Linked DNA regions of Homo sapiens. The protein of the gene in region 3 purifies or fractionates together with the protein of the main gene of each other region. This does not show direct contact. Each region holds a gene or a part of one and is shown on either strand. Other genes may lie near its edges. The genes, in order: VSIG8, DUSP14, FBXL4 and TTC9C.

Region 1 (5,873 bases), on a different chromosome or scaffold from region 3:
CTTCACCCAGCACCCTAGAACTGTGGCACTTAGTTTTTTAATATAAGAGGTTGTAGTCTTATTTTCACATGTCCTTGTTTCTGTCTCACCGGATGCCTGTGCCTTCTGTGCTCCAAGGACTGGTTTCCTTTTAGCTTTCAGCAACATACAAAGACTCCCTAGACCTTCAGAGCACATTATTCTCAATAGAAAATCTTGACATGTGAAAACTTTGAATATTTAGAAATGGCAAGTGTATTGCACTTTGTCGGTTCCTCAGTTTATTTTACGGTCGTAGATATTCTGAGCTAATTCTTTTTGTCTTTGTTTTCCTTTTATCTGCACTTTGTATGTTGTTCAGAGGAGTTGCCCTGGATGGCCCCTTCCAGCTCTGACTGCCAGGGATCTAAGCAGGAGGGAGGAGAGGGGGCGTGGTCGAGGCGAGCGACAGAAGCAACCCTCCCCGGCCCTGGGCAGGGTTCGCCACCCCGTGCCCAACCTCCGTGGAACGCGGACAGCCACTTCGGACTCACGTCTCAATGTTTCTTTATTGTGCTAACACTGCTGCCTCAGAGCTCAGACCTCACACACAGAACAATTCGTCCAGACAGACCCCCACCCACCCGGCCCCCGGGGCCCTCTGCTTAGGCTGGGGACACCAGGCCTCCGGCCTCAGCCGCTCTAGGACACTCAGCCTCCTCCTCCCTCCCTCTCCCCCAAGCCTTCGGTCCCGGGGGTGCGGAGAAGGCTCAGGATCGCCTTCCTCCGCCCTCGCCCGCCCCTTCCCACTTTTGGGGAGGAGGCTCTGCCTCCCTACGCATTTCCTTAGGGAAATGCCTTCACCCCCAGCCGCCTGGCAGCCTGGGGCGAGCGAGGTCGTCCCCAGCCCCGACGTGTCCCCAGCTGCAGACAGAGAGCCCCGCGCCCTCCTCCTGGCTGGGGCGCAGCCCGGCCCGGCGCGCGCGCTCACACCAAGAGGCCGTTCTTGCACTGCACCGGCCCCTCGGCGCAGTCAGCCGGCTCCGCGCTCTTGACCTTGACGTAGACCGGGGAGGGGCCCGCTTCGCAGGCGGCGGCGGCGGTGCAGGGCGCCAGGGCCACGTCCTCGGGGCCGCCGCAGGGGGGAGGCGCGTACTTGCGGCGCAGGGAGCGGCTGACGTTCTGCGTCGGGTACCCCAGGAGGTGGGTGACGCGGCTGCCGCGCCCGCTGGCCTTGCACCCGGGCGCCACGGCGTCCTCTCTGTGGAAAACAACAGGCGGGCGGGTGAGCGGGCTGCTCCGCAGCGGGGCGTGGGCACGGCCTGGGCAGAGCCGGGGGCTCTTGGCAACCTCTTGTCTCCCGCGCCTCCCTCCACCTGCCCTCGTCTCTCTCCCTCGGCCTCGACCTACTGTCCTTTGTGACCCTTCCTGGGTCGGCGACCCTGCAGCGGTCCCGGAGCCAGCATCCCCATCCTCCAGACAGGGCTTGTCCACGCGTATCTGGAGAGCCCTGCAGGCAGCCCCCTCCAGGCCCCTGCAATCCCTTTCTGATGTTTCGCAGGCCCAGAAGAAGGTGCTTTTCCTCTTCTTCTTTCCTTAGCTAATCCTGACCTTGCTCGAGCAATCTCTCTCTTTCTCACCTCCTGCCCCTCAGTCTTCTCCATCTTTCCCTCCATCCCCGAGGCATTGCAATCATTAGCACTACTAGACTTGTTCTATTTTTATTTCTAGTTTGCTTCTAATATAAGTTATTAGCACTATTCTTATTATTAGCTCTTCTTAAATAATAATGTCAGAGTTCTTACCGGCGCAGTACAGGGGAAACGTGAAAAAACATAGGCCCTGCCCTCCAGGAGCTTACAGTCTAGACAAGACAGACAGGTGCGTAGGCAGGAGGGAAATGGAAGGCAGGGAGCAGAGGTGAAGACTGGGGTGGCAGGGGGAGGGGAAAGCCATGAGTTGGGTGGCAGGTCGACATGCCGCAGTCCCAGCACTCCGTGGCGATGGCGGGCAGGGTTGGGGTGGGGGGCCCAGCCGGCCGGTGGCAGGCAGGAGTGAGGTGGGCAGGGCGCCGGTTCCCTGCCGCACAGCAGCATGCAGCATGCATCAGGTTTTACCTGATCTCACTAGCCAAGTCGCCGCAGGCCCCTCCGCCGACCCCGCCGCCGTTGCCGTAGCCGAAGGCACCGCGGGCGCCGCCAGCCCCGGAGCCCCCGCAGCAGCAGCAGACGAGCCCCCAGATGCCTACGGCCAGGCAGCCCAGCGCGAGCAGAGAGCCCAGGACGATGCCGATGATCACGCCTATACGCCGGGAGTCTGTGGAGAGAAGTGGAGGCAGGTCAGGCTTTCTCACAGCCTGGCAGGTGCCTGAGGGAACAGCACCAGGAGGTGCCAGGTCAGGGGTTAATGGGAAAGAGGGAGAGGGACCCAGGGGGTCTCTTAGCCCTGGAACACCCAGTGGGGAAGATATGGGGAGATGCAAGTTAACCCCTCGTGTCAGCATGCTTCTCCCAGGGCTTCCAGCTGCTCTGGGCTCTAGAGCTCAGAGTGGAAGCTGTGCTGGGCGAGCTTGACCCAGCTCAATAGGGTCAAGATCGTACCCACTGATCTTGGCCCACTTGTAGGAAAGGGGCTGGGAGCCCCCACTGGCAAATGGATGGCAGTGGAAAGGCAGAAGCAGCTGAGGCTCCAAACCAGAGCCCAGCCTCCTCCAGTTCAACCCTCCCAACCACCCAGCCCTCAAGACTGCTGCACCTACCTGAGACCTTCACCTCCACCACACAAACACTGTAGCCCACGTTGTTGGCCACTGTGCACTGATACAGCCCATCATCTGCTCTGGAGATATCCTTCAACACCAGGTCCCCATTGTTCAGGCCTGAAAGTGAAGTGGAGAGAGGCCTGGTCTCTGAGAGCTCCCACCCCAACCTCAGTCCCTGTGGGGTGGGGGATGGGACACCCACTCTAGAAGAAGGGAAGGCTTATGCATGTGTGTACACCCACACCCACACACACACACACACACTCCACTCTCCAGGTGAGTCACCTTCCCCCTGCTGTGAAAGAGATGCAAGAAAGGACCTCTCTCCCAGCAGCAAGACAGGGACACCATTAATTCACTCTGACCTTAGGGAAATATGTACGCTCTCTGAGCCTTGGTCTCCTCCTTTGTACAGTGAGGACAGGAGAAGCCAGGGGAAGAGGAACTCTAAGGTCCCTCCTAGCTCTATTATTCTTTGTTTGACTGAATATTTTCAGCTTCTCTATGTACTAGGAGCTTTACACACCTCCCCCATTTAATCCTTGCATGCCCATGAAAGGTATATGTTAGTATTCCCTTTCCATATATGAAGAAATTAAGGCACAGGGAGGGTAAGCCACTTGCCTTAAACTTGGAGCCAGTCAGTGTCCCAGCCAGGATTCAAGCCCAGCTCTGTCTGAGACCAGGCTCCCTCCAAATTCGCCATAGTACTTTTGACTGACTCTCCACATTTGCCTTATCATCTGCTCTCAATAGCAGCTGCTGGGCCAGGCACGGTGGCTCACGCCTGTAATCCTAGCGCTTTGGGAGGCCAAGGCGGGCGGATCGCCTGAGGTCAGGAGTTTGAGACCAGCCTGGCTAACATGGTAAAACCCCGTTTCTACTAAAAATACAAAAAATTAGCCAGGTGCGGTGGTGCATGCCTGTAATCCCAGCTACTCGGGAGGCAGAGGCAGGAGAATCGCTTGAACCCGGGAGGCAGAGGTTGCAGTGAGCCGAGATCATGCCATTGCCCTCCAGCTTGGGCAACAAGAGCGAAACTCTGTCTCAAAAAAAAAAAAAAAAATAGCAGCTGCTGGGGCAGGCCCAGAGGGAGGGTCTCCCACAGGGATTCCAGGTTTGATTTGATGGCACTGATAACCCAAGGAAACCCCAACAGGTCCCAGAGTCCCTGATCTTCCACTCACCCCCGACTGCCCTCATCCAGGGCCCTCTCACCTTGGTTTATGGAGCTGTGGAAGGACTCCTGGTAGGACAGCTCTGAGTGGTAGCTGTGCTGGGAGGTGTAAGACCCAGCTCGATAGGGGTAATGGTGCCCACTGATCTTGGCCCACTTGTAGGAGAGGGGCTGGGAGCCCCCACTGGCATAGCACTTCAGCACCACATCGTTGCCATATGTCATGTGGCCCTCTGTCCAGCACATGGGCACTGCAGGTCGTGCTGCAAGGAGGCAGACAATTGTAAGCCAGGGCCCAGCCAAGAGACAGAGCCAGGCTCAAAGTGGCCAAGCTGCCCTTGGCTCTTAAGCCAGGGGGAGAGGAGCTTAGAGGAGTCTGGCCATACCTTGGACAGTGACAATGACCTTCCGGGTGGCCATGGTGGTCTTCTTCACCCGGCACTCATAAGTGGCTGTATCAGATACCTGCAGGTTCATGAGGTTGATGGAGGCATCGTACTGGCTTGGGTCTGAGGCTGCAAAGCGGACCCTCTGCTGCAGATGGGGAAGGCTGCCATGGTTGATCCTCTTGTCCTGGTAACTAAGGAACTGTGAAGAGGAGAGGAAAACAGGTGGTGAAACAGGCAGAGCCAAGAAGGGCCATGTGGATTGGCTGCTTTGGGCAATTCACTGAACTTCTCTGAGACTCTTTTCTCAGCTGAAAAAATGAGAATAATGATGCCTGAGCCACTGACCTCTTACAGAACTGGTGAGATCAGGTGAGATCAAGCACTTGGAAAGATATATGGTCAGACTGGGAACTTTTTGAAGGCAAAGACTACAACTTATCTTCCTTTTAGAATGGGATGGGAGGAGGTAGACTGACTGGCTAGCTTAATTCACAATTGCAGAGCTCTCATCCCCATTGCCTCATTCCCTGAAAGGCCTTGGGGGAGGTTCAAGGTCAGTCTTCTCCCTTTGGGATGTTGGCTGTCCAACAGGTAGACATCATGAAGCCTAGAGGAAGGAGACCCCTGTGCCCAGCACTCACCACGTTCTCTCGGTGGTGGGCGGGGTCTGAGTTGACCTGCATCCACTCGATGTCCAGCCCATTGGGACCATAGTCCTCAGGGTCCAGGACGTAGGGGCAGCCCAGCCTCACATTATCACCTTCTGCCAGGTACAGGACCTCCTGTCCATCCCCGTTGATCCGCACAGCAGACAGCAGTGCTAGGGGGAGGGCAGAGAAGATGGGGTGGTAGGAGCAGAAGCAGGGCTTCAGGAGGAGTCAGTGTCAGCCCTTCCCTTCATATTCTCTGTCCACGGCACCCAGAGGTCAGCAGTGCTTTCATAAAAAGGAGGGCTGCTCGTAGTGGGTGTGTATGTGTGTGTGCATGAATTGTCACAGGCATATAACAGCTATACATATAGCTGTTATATATGTAGCTGTTATGTATGCTTGTATGTATATATGATTATGTGTATGCATGTATGAATATGTACACGTATGTACATTGTATGCTTATGAGTATTTGTGGCTGCTTATGTGTACTGTGAGGATATTCATGTACATGACCACGTAGCGTGTCTGCTTATATATTTATATGATAGTGTGGATGTGTTTGTGTGTGTGAAGGCATGTGGTACACACAGAGTTGTTAAATGCTCTGATAGAAGAGCCTGGCTGATTAAATGTCACCTATGTGGGCTCTGTCTGGGCTGAGTGAAGTCCTCCTGTCCAGAGGCAGCGGGGTGGTTACAATGGCTTCTGGGACTCCTCTCCAGCCTGAGAAGCCAAAGACTAAGTGTGTCTATGTGTGTCTGTGTATGACAGTGTGAGTCTGTGGCTGTATGCCTCTGTGTGGTTTTGTATAGTGATGTGTGACCATGTGAGCTATGTAAGTGCTTAAAAGTGACAGTGTGTGCTTGTGCATGACAGTGGACAGCTGTGACCAGGAGCCTGGCTGTGTTCGTGTGTGATAGTGAGTGATGGTGTGT
Region 2 (7,031 bases), on a different chromosome or scaffold from region 3:
TAACTGAAAAAATACTGTCTGGAAACACAATATGACAATGTAATAGTTCCCTTTAGAAGACTACATTACTAATTAGTAAAACATTTCTAGGCTGGGCATGGTGGCTCACGCCTGTAATCCTAGCACTTTGGGAGGCCGAGGTGAGTGGATCACCTGAGGTCAGGAGTTTGAGACCAGCCCGGCCAACATGGTGAAACCCCGTCTCTACTAAAAATATAAAAATTAGCCAGGTGTGGTGGTGGGCACCTATAATCCCAGCTACTCGGGAGGCTGAGGCAGGAGAATCGCTTGAACCCGGGGGGATGGAGGTTGCAGTGAGCCGAGATCGCGCCAGTTCACTCCAGCCTGCGTGAAAGAGCGAAACTCTGTCTCAAAAAACAAAAAACAAACAAACAAACAAAAACACTTCTAGAGGGTCGGGTGTGGTGGCTCACACCTGTAATCCCAGTACTTTGGGAGGCCAAGGCAGGAGGATTGCTTGAGCCCAGGAGTTCGAGGCTGCAGTGAGCCAGGATCATGCCACTGTACTCCAGACTGAGCCAAACAGTGAGACCCCATCTCTTAAAATAAAAAAATTTAAAAAATAAAAAAAAGAAAGTTTGCCAACTGATATGGTTAGGCTCTGTGTCCCCACTCAAATCTCACCTTGAATTGTAATTCCCATAATCCCCACGTGTCAAGGGCAGGACCAGGTGGGGGCGGTTTCCCCCATGCTGTTCTGGTGATTTTGAGTGAGTTGCATGAGACCTGATGGTTTTATAAGCGTCTGGCATTTCCCCTGCCTGCACTGACTGTAAGTTTCCTGAGGCCTCCCCAGCAATGTGGAACAGCGAGTCAATTAAACCTCTTTCCTTTATAAATTACCCAGTCTCAGGCAGTTCTTCATAGCAGCGTGAGAATGGGCTACTACACCAATCCTTGGTTGAAATTAGTAAGTTATAAAACCATCACAGCATAGTAGACGCATTCTTCAAAGTGTGCTCCCAAGGAGTCCTACACGAGAATCACCTGGGCTGCCTGTTAGAATGCAGACTCCTAGACCCCACCCCAGACCTAATTAATCAGAATTTCTGGAAGTGAAGGCCTGGGAATTCACATTTCTAGTAAGTACCTTTTTAGAAGGAATCTAAAAATATTATTAAGAGTAATCTGATATTGTGGAAAAAATATCTCCTGTACTTTCTAGGAGGATAAATGGAATAAGAAACTCCGTAAGTGTAATTTTTGTAAAAAAAAAAAAAACTGATTACTTTCATATAATACAGTAGTCATTTGGATTTAAGATACAATCTAGGCCGGGTGCGGTGGCTCACGCCTGTAATCCCAGCACTTTGGGAGGCCGAGGCAGGTGGATCACGAGGTCAGGAGATCGAGACCATCCTGGCTAACACGGTGAAACCCCGTCTCTACTAAAAATACAAAAAATTAGCCAGGTGTGGTGGCGGGCACCTGTAGTCCCAGCTACTGGGGAGGCTGAGGCAGGAGAATGGCGTGAACCGGGGAGGCGGAGCTTGCAGTGAGCAGAGACTGCGCCACTGCACTCCAGCCTGGGCGACAGAGCGAGACTCTGTCTCAAAAAAAAAAAAAAAAAAAAAAAAAAAAAAGATACAATCTAGTACACAAAACAAGTTCTACTCCATTTCCATTTTGGATCACCTTTGGCTGAAAGTTTACACCAAGTAATTGAAGCTCTGTAAAACACTAAATACTTCTCCAATTTTTGTTAACAAGAAACATCATGTGACAAAAAGGAAAAAAAAGAAATATCATGTGAAATGTGAAATGCTCTAAGAGTTCCATCCCCTAAACATAGAACATATGTGACAGTACAAAATAAAGGCTAGTAAAGATTTCTGTCCTTTTTTTTTTTTTTGAGACAGGGTCTTGCTCTGTCACCCAGGCTGGAGTGCAGTGGTGCAATCTAGGCTCACTGCAGCCTCAACCTCTGGGACTCAAGCGATCCTCCCACCTCTGCCTCCTGAGTAGCTGGGGCTACAGGGGTGCGCCACCATGCCTGGCTAATTTTTTGTAGAGACAGGGTTTTGCCACGTTGCCCAGGCTGGCCTTGAATTCCCGGGCTCAAGTGATACTCTGGCTGGCCTCAGCTTCCCAAAGTGCTGGGATTGTAGGCATGGGCCACCATGCTTAGTCTTGTCTTGTCTTTTTTTTTTTTTTTGAGCAAGAATCCTGGAGCACAGTGGCACAATCATGGCTTACTGCAGCCTCGACCTCCTGAGCTCAAGCAGTCCTTCCACCTCAGCTTCCCAAGTAGCTGTAACGATAGCCATGAGCCACCACATCCGGTTAATTTGTGTTTTTTGTAGAGACAGGGTTTTGCCATGTTGCCCAGGCTGGACTCGAACTCCTGGGCTCAAGCCATCCACCTCCCTAGGCCTCCCAAAGTGCTGGGATTACAGGCATGAGCCACCACACCAGGCCTCTATGTCCTTTTGACATTCATCAAAAAAGCAGTTTGAAGGCAGGGCGCGGTAGCGCATGCCTGTAATCCCAGCACTCTGGGAGGCCAAGGCAGGTGGATCACTTGAGGTCAGGGGTTTGACCAGCCTGGCCAACACAGTGAAACCCCATCTCTATTAAAAATACAAAAATTAGCTGGGCATGGTGGCATGTGCCCGTAATCCCAGCTACTCAGGAGGCTGAGGTAAGAGAATCACTTGAACCTGGAGGGCGGAGGTTGCAGTGAGCTGAGATTGTGCCACTGAACTCCAGCCTGGGGAAGAGACTCTGTCTTTAAAAAAAAAAAATGCAGTTTGAAGTAAAATTGATATTTAAATAGAGTTGGAAGGAAATGTACCAAATTCATGGGAGTGGTTGTCTCAGTGGGAAGGGAAGAGAAATGGCCCAAGGAAGCTCTGACTTGATAATACTTAATTTCTAAGCATTATAAAAGATAAAGTATGAGCAATGATTTTTGAATGGTGAGTTATGATGCTGGTTAATTTGCTTTCAATAATTTTCTTTTCTTTTTTTTTTTTTTTTTTTGAGACAGAGTCTTACTCTGTTGCCCAGGCTGGAGTGCAGTGGCTCAATCTCTGCTCACTGCAACTGCCTCGTCCTGGGTTCAAGCAATTCTCCTGCCTCAGTCTCCCAAGTAGCTGAGATTACAGGTGCATGCCACCACACCCGGCTAATTTTTTGTTTGTTTGAGATGGAATCTCGCTCTTTCACTCAAGCTGGATTGCAGTGGTATGATCTTGGCTCACTTGAACCTCCGCCTCCCAGGTTCAAGCAATTCTCTGTCTCAGCCTCTGGAGTAGCTGGGATTACAGGGGCCCACGACCACTCCCGGCTAATTTTTGTATTTTCAGTAGAGACGGGGTTTCACTATGTTGGTCAGGCTGGTTTCGAACTCCGGACCTCATGATCCACCCGCCTCAGCCTCCCAAAGTGCTGGGATTACAGGCATGAGCTACCGTGCCCGGCCTAACACCCGGCTAATTTTTACATTTTTATAAGAGATGGGGTTTCACCATGTTGGTCAGGCTAGTCTCGATTGAACTTTTGACCTCAAGTGATCCACCTGCCTCAGCCTCCCAAAGTGCTGGGATTATAGGCGTGAGCCACTGTGCCCAGCATAATTTTCTATATGATTTCAATTTCTAAAAGTAAAAAATATTTTTAATAGAAGAAAATTAACAACACATAGTTGTCGGTCCAAGCCCCCTCTCCACTTCTGGCCTGAGCCTGCCAGTGCTCTTTATATAGGAGCCAGGATAACACCAAAGATTTATAATGATGACATGAAGTGTGTCTTCATTATAAATGTTTTGTGTTTTATAATGAAACACAAAGATTTAAAAGATTTAGTTAAATCTAAGATTTAGATTTTAGCTAAATTGGCAAAATTCTTCATTATAAATCTCCAAATTTGTATGTAATTTGTATGTTGACAGTACTTCCAGATTTTATTTTTACAAGTGCTTCCTTAAAACTTAAAGCAGGCTGGGCGCGGTGGCTCATGCCTGTAATCCCAGCACTTTGGGGGTCCGAGGCAGGTGGATCACGAGGTCATGAGATCGAGACCAGCCTGACCAACATGGTGAAACCCTGTCTCTACTAAAAATAGAAAAATTAGCTGGGCGTGGTGGCATGCGCCTGTAATCCCAGCTACTCGGGAGGCTGAGGCAGGAGAATTGCTTGAACCTGGGAAGCGGAGGTTGCAGTGAGCCGAGATCGCGCCACTGCACTCCAGCCTGGTGATGGAGCAAGACTCCGTCTCAAAAAAAAAACAAAAAAACAAAAAAAACAAAACTTAAAGCAAGTTCACCTACTGGTCACTTTCCCAGGCAGGGAAGGCTGGTGCTTTGAAGGCGCTCTCTGCCACATAATGTTTACTAGTCAACAGAAGCAGCATGCTCTAGTTAGGGAGTTTTCTCATATGTACCCACACACTCAAAGACATAGGAGTCAAAACAAACAAACAAACAAACAAAAAAACTTGCCCTAGGTCATTGATGCTGAAACTGTTCTGGGACAAAGACAGAAGTAAACCCAGCAGTTGCATATGAACTTCAAAAGAACCTTCTCGTCCACTGAGGTTTCAACATGGCATGGGGTGTGAAAAGCTGACCCAACCGGACCTCTGGTTGCTCTAGGTTGGTGCAAGAACAGAATGGGACGTGCCCAGGTGAGCTGGGTGGGCTGCACATGAAAGGGCATGGCTGTGATCTCAGCCCTAGGCCTCCTCCCTCGCCCAGGCTGAGGCTGCCCCTGCCCTGCAACAGGTGGAAAATGGAGCTCCTTTGTGAAAGCTGCCCGCTGGAAGGCCGAAGGGGTGACAAAGAACACGACAGGGCTCCTCCCCCATCACTCAGATCAACAGGTTCTCATACTAACGACTTCTTACTCCTCCTCCTTTGGGTGTCTTTTCCTGAAAACTTCTAATTTATCCGCATGTGGTTTCTAAAATTATCATTATTTTAGAGAATCTGAAAAAAAATCTTTACTATAATGAGCAAAAAAGTCTTTGTGACTTATGTAAATAAAGACTGAAAATAGAGTGATTTAGCTATTTTCCAAGATGCTTTAGAGAAGAAATAAAAAGGATCTACAAATCTCAGTCTTTGTGCTAGTGTTCTTCCATCATCCCTCCAGCTAAAAAGGATTCCCCTGAGGTATTTTGTAAACCTACAGAATTGCGTAACATTCTGCTCTAAGGGCAGAAACACAGCACATAATACTAGGCACATGGTAAGTACTCAATGAACACCTGAATTTAACGGCTGCCCTCAGGTGAACTGCCCACCTCTCCCCACACCCTCCCTCCTGCTCCTTCTCTTTCTCACATTCTCTCACTCTCTCTCACACACACACTTCAAATCCAGCTGGCAAAACTAAACACGGGCAATCAAAGTGAGCCTGGTAACTGTCTGTTCACAAAGCAGGAATTCAAGCTGGATGTGGCACATGCTGCAGTCCCAGCTTTTAGGAGGCTGAGGTGGGAGGATCCCTTGAGCCCAGCAGTTCAAGGCCAGCCTGAGCCACACTGCTAGACTCCATCTCTTACAAAGAAAATGAACAAAAACGACAAAAACTCTGCTCTAAGCTACTTCTACTTTCTCAGGCAAAGGAAAATTTGGAGAAAAATACATTTAAAAGATTTAAAGGCTGGGTGCGGTGGCTCACGCCTGTAATCCCAGCATTTTGGGAGGCCGAGGCGGGCGGATCACGAGGTCAGGAGATTAAGACCATTCTGACTAACATGGTGAAACCCCGTCTCTACTAAAAATACAAAAAATTAGCCGGGCATGGTGACGGGCACCTGTGGTCCCAGCTACTAGGGAGGCTGAGGCAGGAGAATGGCATGAACCTGGGAGGCGGAGCTTGCAGTGAGCCGAGATCGCGCCACTGCACTCCAGCCTGGGCGACAGAGTGAGACTCTGTCTCAAAAAAAAAAAAAAAAAGTTTAAAAGAGTCATTGATTCCTGTAGCACAGAGTCTGTGGTTACTTTGGAATTGCCAAGAAGTATGAGTTAGGGTCTGTGCACAGTGCCTCTTAAGGAGTCTCATCCTCAGAGGGTACTTTAACAAGGATAGGCCTGGGTTCCTGCACACTACACTGTCCTACACATTTAGGGCTGGGCACAATGGAAGCATTCACCAGAGGCAGGATTCATTCAAGAGCCTTAAAAAACATCTAGGTACTAGCCACTTATTTTTAGTACTTCATTTTGCATATTTAAAATTTCCTGTAACTACTCATCTGTTCCAAAAAAAAAAAAAAAAGATTGATGAAAGGATTCCATTAGATATTTGTCAACCAAACACAGTGGGAAAACCATTTCTGGTATTTGGGTGGTTAGTCCAAACCATATAACTAAATAAAAATACGCTAGCACATGACAGGCCAGGGATCGGACTACCCAGGGACCTTTATTCATTCATTCAGAAAATATTCAAGCATAATTGTGGTTAAACAGCAAATACAGTGACTTACAAACTCAAGGCTGACACCACTGAAGGAATGTAAATTGGTACAACCACTTTGGAAACCAGGTATCAACTAGTAAAGCTGAAGGTATGCACACCTGACTCAGGGCTGTTCATAATTGCCCCAGACCAGAAACAACCCAGATGTCCATCAACAGTGGAAAGGTAATTTGTGGTATGTTCATAAGACAAAAATGTACTAACTGGGCTGGGTGTGGTGGCTCACACCTGTAATCCCAGCACTTTGGGAGGCCCAGGCAGGAGGATCCCTTGAGCCCAGGAGTTCAAGACCAGCCTGGGCAATATAGTGAGACCTTGTCTCTAAAAAAATTAAAACACAAAAACTACAGGCATAGGCAACGATATGGATAAATCTTTTAAAATAGCATGCTGCAGAAATTTAAAAAATTATATATGTGCGTGTGTATATACATACATACACACACACATACATACACATACACACACACACACACGATGCCGGCCAGAAGGAAGGATTCACAAGAGTATCTACTTTTAGTTTGCACTGAGGTTAAAAACAAGCAAAATAAAACTATGTCAATTAGGGATTTATATTTAGG
Region 3 (6,943 bases):
GGAATACTATGCAGCCATAAAAAATGATGAGTTCATGTCCTTTGTAGGGACATGGATGAAATTGGAAATCATCATTCTCAGTAAACTATCGCAAGGACAAAAAACCAAACACCGCATATTCTCACTTATAGGTGGGAATTGAACAATGAGAACACATGGACACAGGAAGGGGAACATCACACTCTGGGGACTGTTGTGGGGTGGGGGGAGGGGGGAGGGATAGCATTAGGAGATATACCTAATGCTAGATGACGAGTTAGCGGGTGCAGCGCACCAGCATGGCACATGTATACATATGTAACTAACCTGCACATTGTGCACATGTACCCTAAAACTTAAAAGTATAATAATAATAAAAAATATATAGAGAGAGAAATGAAAAAAAAAAAAAAAAGAGTTCTGTACACAGGCGGATGGCTCCTCATCTAGGCTGGTAATTTCACAGGGGCTGTGACGCAAACCTATTTACCCAAACCTTCCATTATATTCAGCAGTGCCCTGAAATGATCAATTTTGAAAGTGAACTAATGAGATACTCAAACTTATTTTATTACTCTAAAGTACAGAATACAAACAACAGAAATCATTAGATATTGAACAGCATTTTTATGTAAATAAAATTAAAATATCTCAGTCGTCTGTACAGACAACTTCATTTGTAACAGAGACTTGTTTTATCTTTAGTGTATTCTACTCTATTTATCTGATACGACTATTTTGCTTTTAAATGTTTTCCTTAAAATTTTTATAACTAATACTTCACTAATTACTTTACCAAATACATAGATTAAAATATCCCTAAATGTCAATTTTAGCAGGACTACCTTTTTCCTTTCAAAATGTAGTCAAATATACCTTTAACAGTATTCATATGCACAAAATTTAAGCCAAATATTCAAGCTTACAGGCAAAGATCTTGAGCACACTTACTGCTGTGCCAAAGGAATAATCTTGGCCCCATCCCTACTTATAAAAAATATATAATAAATCATGATCTTTGATTAAAGCAAATGACTCTTAACAGAATGTGAGCTATTGCCAAAAAAATGATTCTAACAGTTATGGTTTTACACTCACAGCCTAGGTTTCTAGTAGTATGTTGTCAAAAAAAGCAAATGAGGTGATGATTGGCAGTTAATGGTCATTGACAAGATTTTAAGGGTAGTTAAAAAAGTTTCTCTGAAGTATCAATATCAAATGTGCTAAAAGGAGAAAAGTAGATGCAGCACTGATGTGTCAAAAATGACTTTGAAAATGTAAATTCCTGTGTCTGTAATAGGTATCCTTTAATAGCTGAAAGTAACAAATGAAAAGCCAAACATTCACTATTAACATACATGGGGCCTGACACAGTGGCTTATGCCCGTAATCCCAGCACTACAGGAGGCCAAGGTGGGAAAATTATTTGAGCCCAGGAGTTCAAGACCAACATAGGCAACATGGAAAGACTGTGTCTCTATAAAAAATAAAAAAATTAGCCAGGTGTGGTGGTGTCTGTAGTCCCAGGTACTCGGGAGGCCGAGGTGGGAGGATCGCTTGAGCCTGGGAGACTGAGGCTGCAGTAAGCTGAGATCATGCCACTGCACTCCAGCCTGGGGCAATAGAGTGAGACCCTGTCTCAAATATGTAACACACACATACATACATAAATATATACACACATACATGGTAGCCAAATGGAAATTTTACTGACTCTTTGATTAGTATCATTACACTTCACATATGAGTTTTAGTCTTCAGTTAATTCCTGGGAAATGCCAAAAATAAAAATACTGCCACAGAGAAATTAGTTTTTCTCTGCTACATATTGGCTCAAAAGTAAGCACCTGAATATTAATTGTCTACATTTTGTATTTTTAAGATCTTATTTCAAAACAATTTACATTGAGAGTATTATTTATGCTCTTAAACAGGATCAGGGATATCTTTATTTCTAGACTCTGGGAAGATAATTTACCTGAGCAAAATGCAAAGATAAATAATTATACAAAAATTTAAGTCAGTTGTCAAAGCTAACAATGCATCACCTGGCTTCAAAATTTAACAAACAAAGAGTCTACATAAATATCTTTCTTGTCTACACATCTTTCTTGTTATGGTAAACATTTTGTTTTTTCTAACAAAACACTGCTCTTCATTTTAAAATCTAAATGGCAAAATGAGAATGATAACAGCGAATTAACAGGTTTGAATGTGGTTTATAAAATTAGGAATGGGCAAACATGGATTAACTGACTCGAAAATACTCTGGAATAGGGGTCACAAATTTGGTCCACAAGCCAAATCCAGCCAGCTCATAAGAACAGTTTCACATTTTCTAATGGCTGAAAAAATCTAATGGCTAACACAGTAGTATTTTGTAACACATCAAAATTATGTAAAATTCAACTTTCAGTGCTCATGAAATTTTATTGGAACATGGCCACACTCATTCGTTTAGGTACTGTCTATGATTGCTTTCACATTAGAATGGCAGAGTTGAACAAATGCAAAGGAGACTTATGTGGTGCTGTCATCATTTTGCACTGCTACTTGGCACACTAAAAACTGCAGTAATGCAGTTACCAGCATTTTGAGTGCCACATATGTTGTCATACCACAATATTTTTAAATTTTTTATTACTAGTGCTTACCCATAACATCAAAACAAGAGAAAAAAAGAAAAGTAGACTTGAAGTGACATTTTTAAGGCACATTAGTATATGAATTTTTAAAAATCAGATTAGATGTCAGAGTATGATGTTTAATATGCAATGTCATTATAGCTGTTCTTAAAGAATACTATAGGGAGGTCAGATGCAGTGGTTCATGCCTGTAATCCAAGCATTTTGGGAGGCTGAAGTGGGTGGATCACTTGAGGTCAGGAGTTCAAGACCAGCCTGGACAACATGGTAAAACCCCATTTCTACTAAAAACATAAAAATTAGTTAGGTGTGGTGGCATGTGCCTGTAATCTCAGCTACTTGGGAGGCTGAGGCAGGAGACTCGCTTGAACCTGCAGGGTGGAGGTTGCAGTGAACTGAGATTGTGCCACTGCACTCCAGCCTGGGCAAAAGAATGAGACTCAGTCTCAAAAAAAAAAAAAAACAAACTCAAAAATGAAAATAAAGTTGCAGCCAAAGTGACTCAGATGTTAACCAAGCAAGGAAAACATTTTACTAACGATAACTAAATTGTGTTTGATTCTATCGGCTGAAGGACTGTGTCCAAAGTAAACTTAAGACTATTAAATTAGCCTTTTGGCAAGAATGGTTGCTTAAAGAATTGAGAACACTGGGAACAACATCAACAGTCAATAAAAAACAAGGCAAATGACCCTGAGTGGTTTTCCTTGGCTCTTGATGAGTCAACAGATGTTACTGACACTGCCTAGTTATTGCTTATTTGATAAGTCAATGCCAACGTTGAAGTGACTGAAATTAGTCTCTATGAATTATCTGTGTGGCACAATTACAAGCATGAATATTTTATAAGAAGAAAACACAAATTTCATGCAACCTGAAGTAGAATCTGCTAAGATGTGTTACAACTGGTGGTGTTAAAAATGTGTGAAGCAAAATGATTACGTTTGTCAAATTTATAAAGCCTGTGAAAAGGTAAGAAGGTATTTAAAATCTATGGTTATTTACTGTATTATTCATCAGCAGGTACTTTGTGGGATATATTTGATTCAATTTTGTATTACTGAACTACTGGTAGCAATGGTGAACTTCATTTGCTCTCATAGTTTCTGATAGATTAAACATCAATGGTTCAGTTATCTTTTGTCAGATACAGAAGATGAATATGCTGATTTGCCCAACCACATTGGCATAATAGTGTTAGTTCTATTGTGAGCTTTTGCGTTCAGGGCTGATATTGACATTTTTCTGAAAAAGAAGACATGTCCTCAATCACTATTATGGAACACTGAATGGCTTTGGAATTTAGCTTTTGCTCAAGACTTAATAAAATTTTGAAATGAATTCAAGCCAAAATTACAAGGCAAAACGTGTTTACAAGCAAAACATAAGTCATTTTGATGACAACATTGTTTGAATTACAAGTAACAACAAGCTGCTTTACACATTTCCTGTGCTATCAAAAGGTAAGACAAAGAAGCGAGATCTCCACTCTCACACAAATTTGTAGCTCACACCATAGTGCCTGCAGTATTTTTTGGAGTTTGCAAATGTAAAGGAAATTTCCATTTTTCAAAATCAATTTAACAGTGCAATTGAGGAGCTTCTGCCTAGTCTTCAATTGGAAGTGATTAAGCTGCAATGTAATAACATGCTAAAAGGAAAATATCCAGAGAAGAAGTAACCTTTCAAGTGATGAATATGCTCAACAAAAATCATATTCTCATGGATTAATGTAAGTATTTGACAATACCTATCTGCAAGGAATTTTCAGAAGTAAAATACATAAAATCTTATTACAGATCAGCATTAACAAATGAGTACTTACAATCAACTTTAATGACACGAAACATTAACTTTGATCCTCCCTGTAAATATTTAATTCTTTTCATTAGTAAACCCGTATTACAAAAAAAATTGTTCTAAATTATTGTTTTGAATTTTGTCAATAAAATTTTCGTGCAAATTTTATTTCTCTCTAGTTATTTAAGTATCTACATAACAATCTCAGTTTTACCTCTTAGCCCACAAAGCCTAAAATATTTACTATCTGGCCCTTTATAGAAAAAGTTTCCTGACCTCTGCCCTAGAGCCAGAAGCTACCCTGAACACCTAAAAGCACAGGTTTAATGCAATGCTTCAGAAGCCAGATGGCCTGGGTTTATATGTTGGCTCTGCCACTAGCAGCTGTATGATCATAAATAAATTCTTCAATCTTTCTTTGCCTCAGTTTCCTCATCTGTAAATGGGGGTAAGTAATGGCATTTATCTTACAGGGTTGTTGTGAGAATTGAATTAGTCAATGCAAAGCACAAGAAACAGTGCCAGGCACAAAGGAAGCATTCTCCTCATGTGACTACTGAACACTTGACATACATCGTTTTGTTAAAAAAATGAATTAATTCTGCTACTCAGAAAGTAGACAGAAAATATTTTGTGGCATGAAAAGGCACAGCTGTTTTGAACACAAAACTAATATTAACTGTAGTATAACAAAATTCATTGTCCTGTTAAGTGCAAAATCGTTATATTCCAGCATCCACACACCCTAGCAAGATATATATCTCTCTCTATATAATATATATAATTATATATATGTATATAATATATACATGTACATTACATATAATATAAATGTAATATATAATTATATAATATATAATATATACATGTATATATTAAAAATCATAAATGTGGATATATATTATCTATAATATGTATATATAATGTGTATATATAATATATATCTCCACATTTATGTTTTTTTATATAATTCAGAAACCTCAAAACTTTACCTTTCACAAAATGTTAAGGCATCTGCTTCTAACAGTTGGAAAGCTTTTTTTATTTAGTAGTTTACCTCTTATTCTTGATTATACCCAAATTTTTATATTGGCATTATCCAGTAGTGAAATAGACAAAAATATCAGAAGAAAAGTGGAAACACTACAATTTTTTTTAAGAGAAAGGGACTTGCTATATTGCCCAGGTTGGAGTGCAGTGGCTGCTCACAGGTGCAATCATAAGTACACTAGAGTCTCAAAATCCCATCTCAAGTAATCCTCCTGCCTCCACCTCCTGTGTCGCTAGGACTACAAGTGTGTGCCACCACACCTGGCTAGAAAAACTAAAAATTTTCCAGTTGAACAGTTAATCCAGAGAAATAACCAAACAGCTGGAAAAGCATGTCTCATTCTCCAACTAGCTCTGACCATTTTGTACATACCAAACAAAACACTTGCCAGGTCACAGGCTTAATAAGACATCCTTACATGAAGGTGTAAAAAATTAACTTTTTTTTTTGCATAAATGCCACGATACTTTATTGCTCAGTGTTCCTTTGAAAATAAGTTAGCATGATTCCATGTTATTCTTTTATCAATCATATTATTGACTAAAGCATATCACTGATTAACATAAGGTAAAAATAATATCCACTCATATTCTTGAAGAGAAGTGCTTGCAGTATTTTATGAAAACATTTGTGCACATTTTTACTTGATTTAATGGACAATTTCATATTTTTCTTTAAAATCTACAAATGTCTTAATTCTTACCATTAAAACAACTAAAAACAAAACCCAAAACCAATCCCAAAATTAAACCCCAACAAAGCACATTAATTTTAATACAGAACATATATTAAGTCACTGAGTAAAGCTCTTTTTTATGAACACTTTTGGAAAGCTTGCATTCAGTTCTAGCACAGCTCTGTTATCAATCTGCGAACAGAAGGACACATCAAGTAAAGAAAGATCTTTACAAGATTCCAGGAGTTTTCTTAAGGATGCCGGACTTACCATTCTTGTTCCTATTTAAGGGAAACAAAACAAAACAAAACAAAACACCTTAAGTATAACATTTATATAATGTGCTAACAATGAATCCATCCATGATTTATTGTTTGTAATGAACTTAAAATAACCCTTTACAAATTAAAATCATTTTTTCAAACATGACTTCATATTGAAATGGTTCTGTTAAAAAAGTAAAAGTTGAATTTTCCAGCCAATTTAGCATCTAGGACCTGAATCTTGCCAATATCCTACCCACTATCTTCATTCCTACCTCCTACCCCTTCAAATCAGCTCCTCCAGACTTTCCTATTTCTGTCACCCCAGTTCAAAATGGTTTTCACCATGCATTTGATGTAAAATGTGCAAGTGCGATATGACTTCACAAAGTATCAATTGTGTGGACAATGATAACTACTGTGACACTGCTAGCACCCCTGGCTAAAAGTAAGAAGCAACAAAATTACACAGGGTTCCTTTCTGATGAATGCAGCAAGGATTCAAGAAATCCCAGAGCTGGAAAAGATT
Region 4 (7,031 bases), on a different chromosome or scaffold from region 3:
TCAGAGGTATAGGGTTAATTTCTCTTGCTGAGGCTCAGATTTCTCCTTCATGCATGTTTAATGGTCCACCTAAGTTCAACTGGAGGAGCATCTTTCTTCTTTGTTAACCAAACATGCCCAGGTAGAGCTGCTTCTCTTTTCTATGGTAGCTGCTGAGTTCTGACTGTGTCAGCTGGAGGTACCGCCGGACGTTGGCATCTTGGAAGATGATGGAGAAGCAATTAGAAACAGTTAGAGTCAGTTAAGACCATAATCATACCTTGTGGCAGGAGAGAATGTTAACATGCTCCCATTTTAAAATCTCTCCAAGATCTGAATATATCGCAACCATTCTATGCAATAGTAAATCTCATTAATTAATAACATTTGGAATTGAAAAAAAACAATCTCTGTCCCGGCTGCTAATTTTTATTTATTTATTTATTTATTTATTTTATTTATTTACTTACTTTTGAGACAGGGTCTCGCTCTGTCACCCAGGCTAGAGTGCAATAGCATGGGATCTCCACTTACTGCAACCTCCGCCTCCCGGGTTCAAGCAATTCTCATGCCTCAGCCTCCCAAGTAGCTGAGATTACAGGCATGCACCACCATGCTTGGTTAATTTTTGTATTTTTAGTAGAGATGGGGTTTCACCATGTTGGCCAAGCTGGTCTGGAACTCCTGACCTCGTGATCCACCCGCCTTGGCCTCCCAAAGTGCTGGGATTACAGGTGTGAGCCACCATGCCTGGACACTGGTTGCTAATTTCATAATGAAAGCAAGATTGATGAAGCAGTTATCATTAAAATAGAGCCTCTAAAGATACTATTCATATAGGTGGCAGTTAATTTATGTATTGGATGCTGAGAAACATGAACAAATGGCTTATATTTTATATCTTTATTAATTCATAATGGCTTTCTCATTCATTTAGATGAGATTTTACTGCACTGCTATACATTTGGTGACTCTGCTACTAGTATCCAGTGGCTATTGTAAGCCAGAATGCAAAAGGGAGACAATTTTCAGTGCTCAACCAACCAACACAGGAATGAGTCTCTCATCTGCTTCACAATATCCTTTTTGCCTTGGAAACAAAGTAAGTCCCAAATTCTCTCTCAGCAGGACTGCCCTTTTTCTAGGTCATACCTGGGGTTAGCTGAGCTAAAGGATAAAAATGATAGCTAAACCAAAGGCCAGACCCCATTTGGAGAACTGGCAGAATGAAAATTATCAAGTGTATTTGTTGGCATTCACACATCCTATTCCAATCACTGTTTTTTTGTTTTGTTTTGTTTTGTTTTTGAGATGGAGTCTCCCTCTGTCTCCCAGGCTGGAGTGCAGTGGCGCGATCTTGGCTCACTGCAAGCTCTGCCTCTCGGGTTCACACTATTCTCCTGCCTCAGCCTCCCGAGTAGCTGGGATTACAGGCGCCCGCCACCACGCCCGGCTAATTTCTTGTATTTTTACTAGAAACGGGGTTTAATCATGTTAGCCAGGATGGTCTCGAACTCCTGGCCTCACATGATCCGCCCACCTTGGCCTCCCAAAGTGCTGGGATTACAGGCATAAGCCACCATGCCCAGCCTCCAATCACTCTTAAAGACCAGGAACAGAACTTGAAAAACGACACTCGCTTTTTTTTTTTTTGGGATGGAGTCTGGCTCTGTCGCCCAGGCTAGAGTGCGACACAATCTCAGCTCACCGAAACCTCTGCCTCCTGGGTTCAAGCGATTCTCCCTGCATCAGCCTCCTAAGTAGCTGGGATTACAGGGGCCTGCCATCACGCCCAGCTTTTTTTTTTTTTTCCGAGACGGAGCCGCCCTCTGTCCCCTAGGCTGGAATGCACCGGCAGGATCTCAGCTCACTGCAAGCTCCGCCTCCCAAGTTCATGCCATTCTCCTACCTCAGCCTCCTGAGTACCTGGGACTACAGGCCCTCACCACCACGTCCGGCTAATTTTTTGTATTTTTAATAGAGACGGAGTTTCCCCATGTTAGCCAGGATGGTCTCGATCTCCTGACCTCGTAATCCGCCCACCTCGGCCTCCCAAAGTGCTGGGATTACAGGTGTGAGCCACTGCGCCCGGCCACACCCGGCTGATTTTTGTATTTTTATTTTTTTTAGTAGAGATGGGTTCCGCCATGTTGGCCAGGCTGGTCTTGAAATCCTGACCTCAGGTGATCTGCCCGCCTTGGCCTCCCAAAGTGCTGGGATTACAAGTGTAAGCCACCGTACCCAGCCCCAAAAAACAACACTGTTTTTTTTTTTTTTTTTTTTTTTTGAGACAGAATCTCGTTCTTGTTGCCCAGGATCTCGGCTCACCGCAACCTCCGCCTCCTGGGTTCAAGCAATTCTCCTGCCTCAGCCTCCCGAGTAGCTGGGTTTACAGGCATGCGCCACCATGCCTGGCTAATTTTGTATTTTTAGTAGAGATGGGGTTTCTCCATGTTGGTCAGGCTGGTCTCAAACTCCTGACCTCAGGTGATCCACCCACTTTGGTCTCCCAAAGTGCTGAGATAACAGATGTGAGCCACCCCACCTGGCCTGCCTATTTTATATATATATTCATGTATATGTATAAATATATACACTGTATATTTATAAATAAAAGCACGTTGATATACATATATTTATATATTAGAATAGGCATACATACATATATGAAACAGACATACCAACATATATATTGTGTATGTCTGATTAAGCATCAACCCCCTACACATGAAACTAATAATACTGCTTTTCTGTGGAGACAAGAACACAAGAGTGGAAAAAGGTCTGTTCATCGTATACTTTTTCAGTTCGAATTCTCAACCATGTGAATGTATTACTTATTGAAAATAATACATTGGCAAAGTAAAATAAAACCCCCTTTCCACAGATCCACCCCAGCAAGACAATTTTGTCTTTACCATTTCAAAGCCCTTCTTGCTTACCTTTAGGCTGCCTATTCACGGCAGCCAGGAGGTAGTGGCGGGCCTGGTCATAGTCCTGCAGATGGAAAAAGGCCACTCCGGCCCGATACAAGGCCTTGGCATTATCAGGCTGTCGTTCCAGGACTTTCTGACTATATTCTCTCACTCGTTCGTAGTTCACGGGCTCCATCTGAAGGAGACAAGCTAATGGGCCAAATGAAAAGAGAGAAGAGGTAGGAGGGGCTCGTTACACCAGGTTCCACTGGCCAGCTCAAGACAGTACTGAACAGGGTGGTAACAACATTCAGTCAACAAATGCTAAAGTGTCTCCCATATGCCAGACACTCTTCTACACACTGGGGATGCAGCAGTGAATAAAAGCTTCACATATCGGCCAGGTGCAGTGGCTCATGCCTGTAATCCCAGCACTTTGGGAGGCCGAGACGGGTGGATCACCTGAGGTCGGGAGTTCGAGATCAGCCTGACAACATGGAGAAACCCCGTCTCTACTGAAAATAAAAATTAGCCAGGTGTGGTGGCGCATGCCTGTAATCCCAGCTACTCGGGAGGGTGAGGCAAGAGAATCGCTTGGACCTGGGAGACGGAGGTTTCGGTGAGCCGAGATCGTGCCATTGCACTCTAGCCTGGGGAACAAGAGTGAAACTTTGTCTCAAAACAAAACAAAAAATTCATATATCTTGTAATCTACTTCAATATTTACTGATTTTCTGCTACATATTTAGTAGCCAGTTAGGCTTGGCTATAAAGCTGGTAAGAACATACTTTAAAATTTATTTAAAACTCGGCTGAGCATGGTGGCTCATGCTGTAATCCTAGCACTTTGGGAGGCTGAGGTAGGAGATTTGCTTGAGCCCAGGAGTTCAAGACCAGCCTGGGCAACATAGTGAGACCCTCCCCTGTCCCTTTTTTTTGGCAGAGTATTCACTGCAGTGTTATAAGAAGTGTATTCCGAATAACAAATGTATTCTTTTTTTATTATTTTTTTAAGACAGAGTCTCACTCATCAGCTAGGCTGGAGTGCAGTGGCATGATCTTGGCTCACTGCAACCTCCAGGTTCAACCAATTCTTCTGCCTCAGCCTCCCGAGTAGCTGGGATTACCCATGTCCAGCTAATTTTTGTGTTTTCAGTAGAGATGGGGTTTCACCATGTTGGCCAGGCTGTTCTCAAACTCCTGACCTCAAGTGATCTGTCCACCTTGGCCTCCCAAAGTACTGGGATTATAGGCATGAGCCACTATGCCCAGGTGAGACCCTATTTTTTTTTTTGAGATGGAGTCTCGCTCTGTCGCCCAGGCTGGAGTGCAATGGCGCGATCTCAGCTCACGGCAACCTCCGCCTCCTGGGTTCAAGTGATTCTCCTGCCTCAGCTTCCCGAGTAGCTGGGATTACAGGCACACATCACCATGCCCGGCTAATTTTTGTATTTTTGTAGAGATGGGTTTTCGCCATGTTGGCCAGGCTTGTCTTGAACTCCTGACCTCAGGTGATTCGCTGGCCTCAGCCTCCCAATGTACTGGGATTATAGACGTGAACCACCCTGCCCAGCCCCCTCATTATTATTATTATTTTTTGAGATGGAGGTCTCGCTCTGTCGTGCAGGCTGGAGTGCAGTAGCGTGATCTTGGCTCATCGCAACCTCTGCCTCCCAGGTTCAAGTGATTCTTCTGCCTCAGCCTCCTGAGTAACTGGGATTATAGGCGCTCACCACCATGCCTGGCTAATTTTTGTATTTTTAGTACAGACGGGGTTTCACCATGTTGGTCAAGCTGGTCTCGAACTCCTGACCTTGTGATCCACCTGCCTCTGCCTCCCAAAGTGCTGGGATTACAGGCGTGAGTCACTGTGCCCGGCCCCATTAATTTTTTATATAAAATTAGATATGCAGTGAGCCGAGATTGTACCACTGCACTCCAGCCTGGGTTATGGAGCAAGACTCCATCTTAAAAAAAAAAAATTAGATAAATTACAATTTTTTAAAAAACAAACTAACCTTCATTGTATCTCTTCTACCTGAGGCTCTATGTCCTGAATCCCCCATTTCACCACAGTTCTTGTACTGCAGCTTTGTTAATAATGGTTGCCATTAATTGTCAGGAAATGGCAAGCGCTGTGCTATGTGCTTGATATACACTGTCTTGTTTAATCTTCGCATCTACACTATTAAATAGGTGTTACTATCTTCATTTAGTGGATGAAGAAATCAAGACTCAGACAAATAACTTGTCTAAGATCTTACAGGTTCTAGGTGGAATATGAAATTTGAATGAAGTGTTGTCTAACTCCAAAATCATCATTCTCAGTAACAATACAGCATATAACTTCACTATTCTCTTGGATGACTTAATGGGACCTTGAAATACAAACCTGCAGAGGAGTCAATTCAGGCAATTCAGGTCAATGTTCTGCCTTTTTATGATTAAGAAGGGAAACACTCCCTATTTCACAACTGTGGGAATTAAACATAGTATTATTAAATCATGGTGCTGAGAAAGATCAAGAATCAGCAGTGATGAGCACATTAAAGGGCCTGTGCTGATGTCTGTATCCCTTCTACAACATCCCCACCAAGTGGTCAAAAAAAAAAAAAAAAAGTGGAGGAATACAGAAGAAACAAGTAAATGAATTTTTTGTTTGTTTGTTTTTAGACAGAGTCTCCCTCTGTTGCCCAGGCTGGAGTGCACTGGTACGATCTTGGCTGACTGCAACCTCCACATCCCAGGTTCAAGCGATTCTCTTGCCTCAGCTTCCCAAGTAGCTGGGACTACAGGCACCTGCCACCACACCCAGCTAATTTTTAAAATATTTTTAATAGAGATGGAGTTTCACCATATCAGCCAGGATGGTCTCCATCTCCTGACCTCGTGATCTGCCTGTCATGGGCTCCCAAAGGGCTGGGATTACAGGCGTGAGCCACCGCACCTGGCCCAAGTAAATTAATTTTTTTTTTTTTTGAGACGGAGTTTTGCTCTTGTTGCCCAGGCTGGAGTGTGCAATGGCGCGATCTTGGTTCACCACAACCTCCGCCTCCCAGGTTCAAGCAATTCTCCTGCCTCAGCCTCCCTAGTAGATGCGATTACAGGCATGCACCACCACGCCTGGCTAATTTTTTTGTATTTTTAGTGCAGATGGGTTTCTCCATGTTGGTCAGGCTGGTCTTGAACTCCTGACCTCAGGTGATCCGCCCACCTCGGCCTCCCAAAGTGCTGGGATTACAGACATGAGCCACCATGCCCGGCCCAAGTAAATTAATTTTTAAAAGTGCTTTAAGAGGCTGGACGCAGTGGCTCACGCCTGTAATGCCAGCACTTTGGGAGGCTGAGGCAGGCAGATCATGAGGTCAGGAGATCGAGACCATCCTGGCTAACACGGTAAAACCCCGTCTCTACTAAAAATACAAAAAATTAGCCAGGCGTGGTGGCGGGCGCCTGTAGTCCCAGCTACTCGGGAGACTGAGGCAGGGGAATGGTGTGAACCCAGGAGGCAGAGCTTGCAGTGAGCCAGAATTGCGCCACTGACGCCAGCCTGGGCGACAGAGTGAGACTTGGTCTCAAAAAAAAAAAAAAAAAAAAAAAAAGTGCTGACCAGGCGCGGTGGCTCACACCTGTAATCCCAGCACTTTGGGAGGCCAAGGCGGGAGGATCACTAGGTCAGGAGATGGAGACCATCCTGGCTAACAAGGTGAGACCCCGTCTCTACTAAAAATACAAAAAAAAAATTAGCTGGGCGTGGTGGTGGGCGCCTGTAGTCCCAGCTATTCGGGAGGTTGGGGCAGAACGGCATGAACCTGGGAGGCAGAGCTTGCGGTGAGATCACGCCACTGCACTCCAGCCTGGGCGACAGAGCAAGACTCTGTCTCAAAAAAAAAAAAAGTGCTTTAAGAAAAATAAAACTATGTCGGGACAGAGAATGAATGAAGTCAGAGTGCTGTTTGCTTCTGGAAGGCTTTTTGGTGGGAGGAATCGGGGGACAGAGTCTTACTTGCTCTGTCACCCAGGCTGGAGGGCAGTGGCCCAATCTTGGCTCACTGCAGCCCCGGCCTCCCATGCTCAAGACATTGGCCCACCTCAGTTTCCAGAATAGCTGGGACTACCGGCAAGCACAACCATGCC

The links.
Region 1: the proteins of FBXL4 (region 3) and VSIG8 purify together in Homo sapiens (affinity purification with mass spectrometry; 2 studies listed by BioGRID and IntAct, with this or other methods). This does not show direct contact.
Region 2: the proteins of FBXL4 (region 3) and DUSP14 purify together in Homo sapiens (affinity purification with mass spectrometry; 2 studies listed by BioGRID and IntAct, with this or other methods). This does not show direct contact.
Region 4: the proteins of FBXL4 (region 3) and TTC9C purify together in Homo sapiens (affinity purification with mass spectrometry; 3 studies listed by BioGRID and IntAct, with this or other methods). This does not show direct contact.

The regions. Positions count from the first base shown.
Region 1 is NC_000001.11:159,853,808-159,859,680, forward strand, and holds the end of VSIG8 (V-set and immunoglobulin domain-containing protein 8 precursor), read right to left. Parts: intron 5,106-5,873; coding exon 4,927-5,105; intron 4,485-4,926; coding exon 4,283-4,484; intron 4,160-4,282; coding exon 3,938-4,159; intron 2,837-3,937; coding exon 2,717-2,836; intron 2,354-2,716; exon of another isoform or gene 2,275-2,353; coding exon 2,076-2,274; exon of another isoform or gene 1,220-2,075; coding exon 946-1,219; 3' UTR 509-945; downstream 1-508.
Region 2 is NC_000017.11:37,492,888-37,499,918, reverse strand, and holds part of DUSP14 (dual specificity protein phosphatase 14), read right to left. Parts: intron 1-7,031. UniProt on the Homo sapiens protein: Involved in the inactivation of MAP kinases. Dephosphorylates ERK, JNK and p38 MAP-kinases. Plays a negative role in TCR signaling by dephosphorylating MAP3K7 adapter TAB1 leading to its inactivation.
Region 3 is NC_000006.12:98,868,010-98,874,952, forward strand, and holds the end of FBXL4 (F-box/LRR-repeat protein 4), read right to left. Parts: intron 6,433-6,943; coding exon 6,269-6,432; 3' UTR 526-6,268; downstream 1-525. UniProt on the Homo sapiens protein: Substrate-recognition component of the mitochondria-localized SCF-FBXL4 ubiquitin E3 ligase complex that plays a role in the restriction of mitophagy by controlling the degradation of BNIP3 and NIX mitophagy receptors.
Region 4 is NC_000011.10:62,731,455-62,738,485, reverse strand, and holds part of TTC9C (tetratricopeptide repeat protein 9C), read right to left. Parts: intron 5,369-7,031; exon of another isoform or gene 5,287-5,368; intron 3,105-5,286; coding exon 2,922-3,104; intron 199-2,921; coding exon 104-198; 3' UTR 1-103.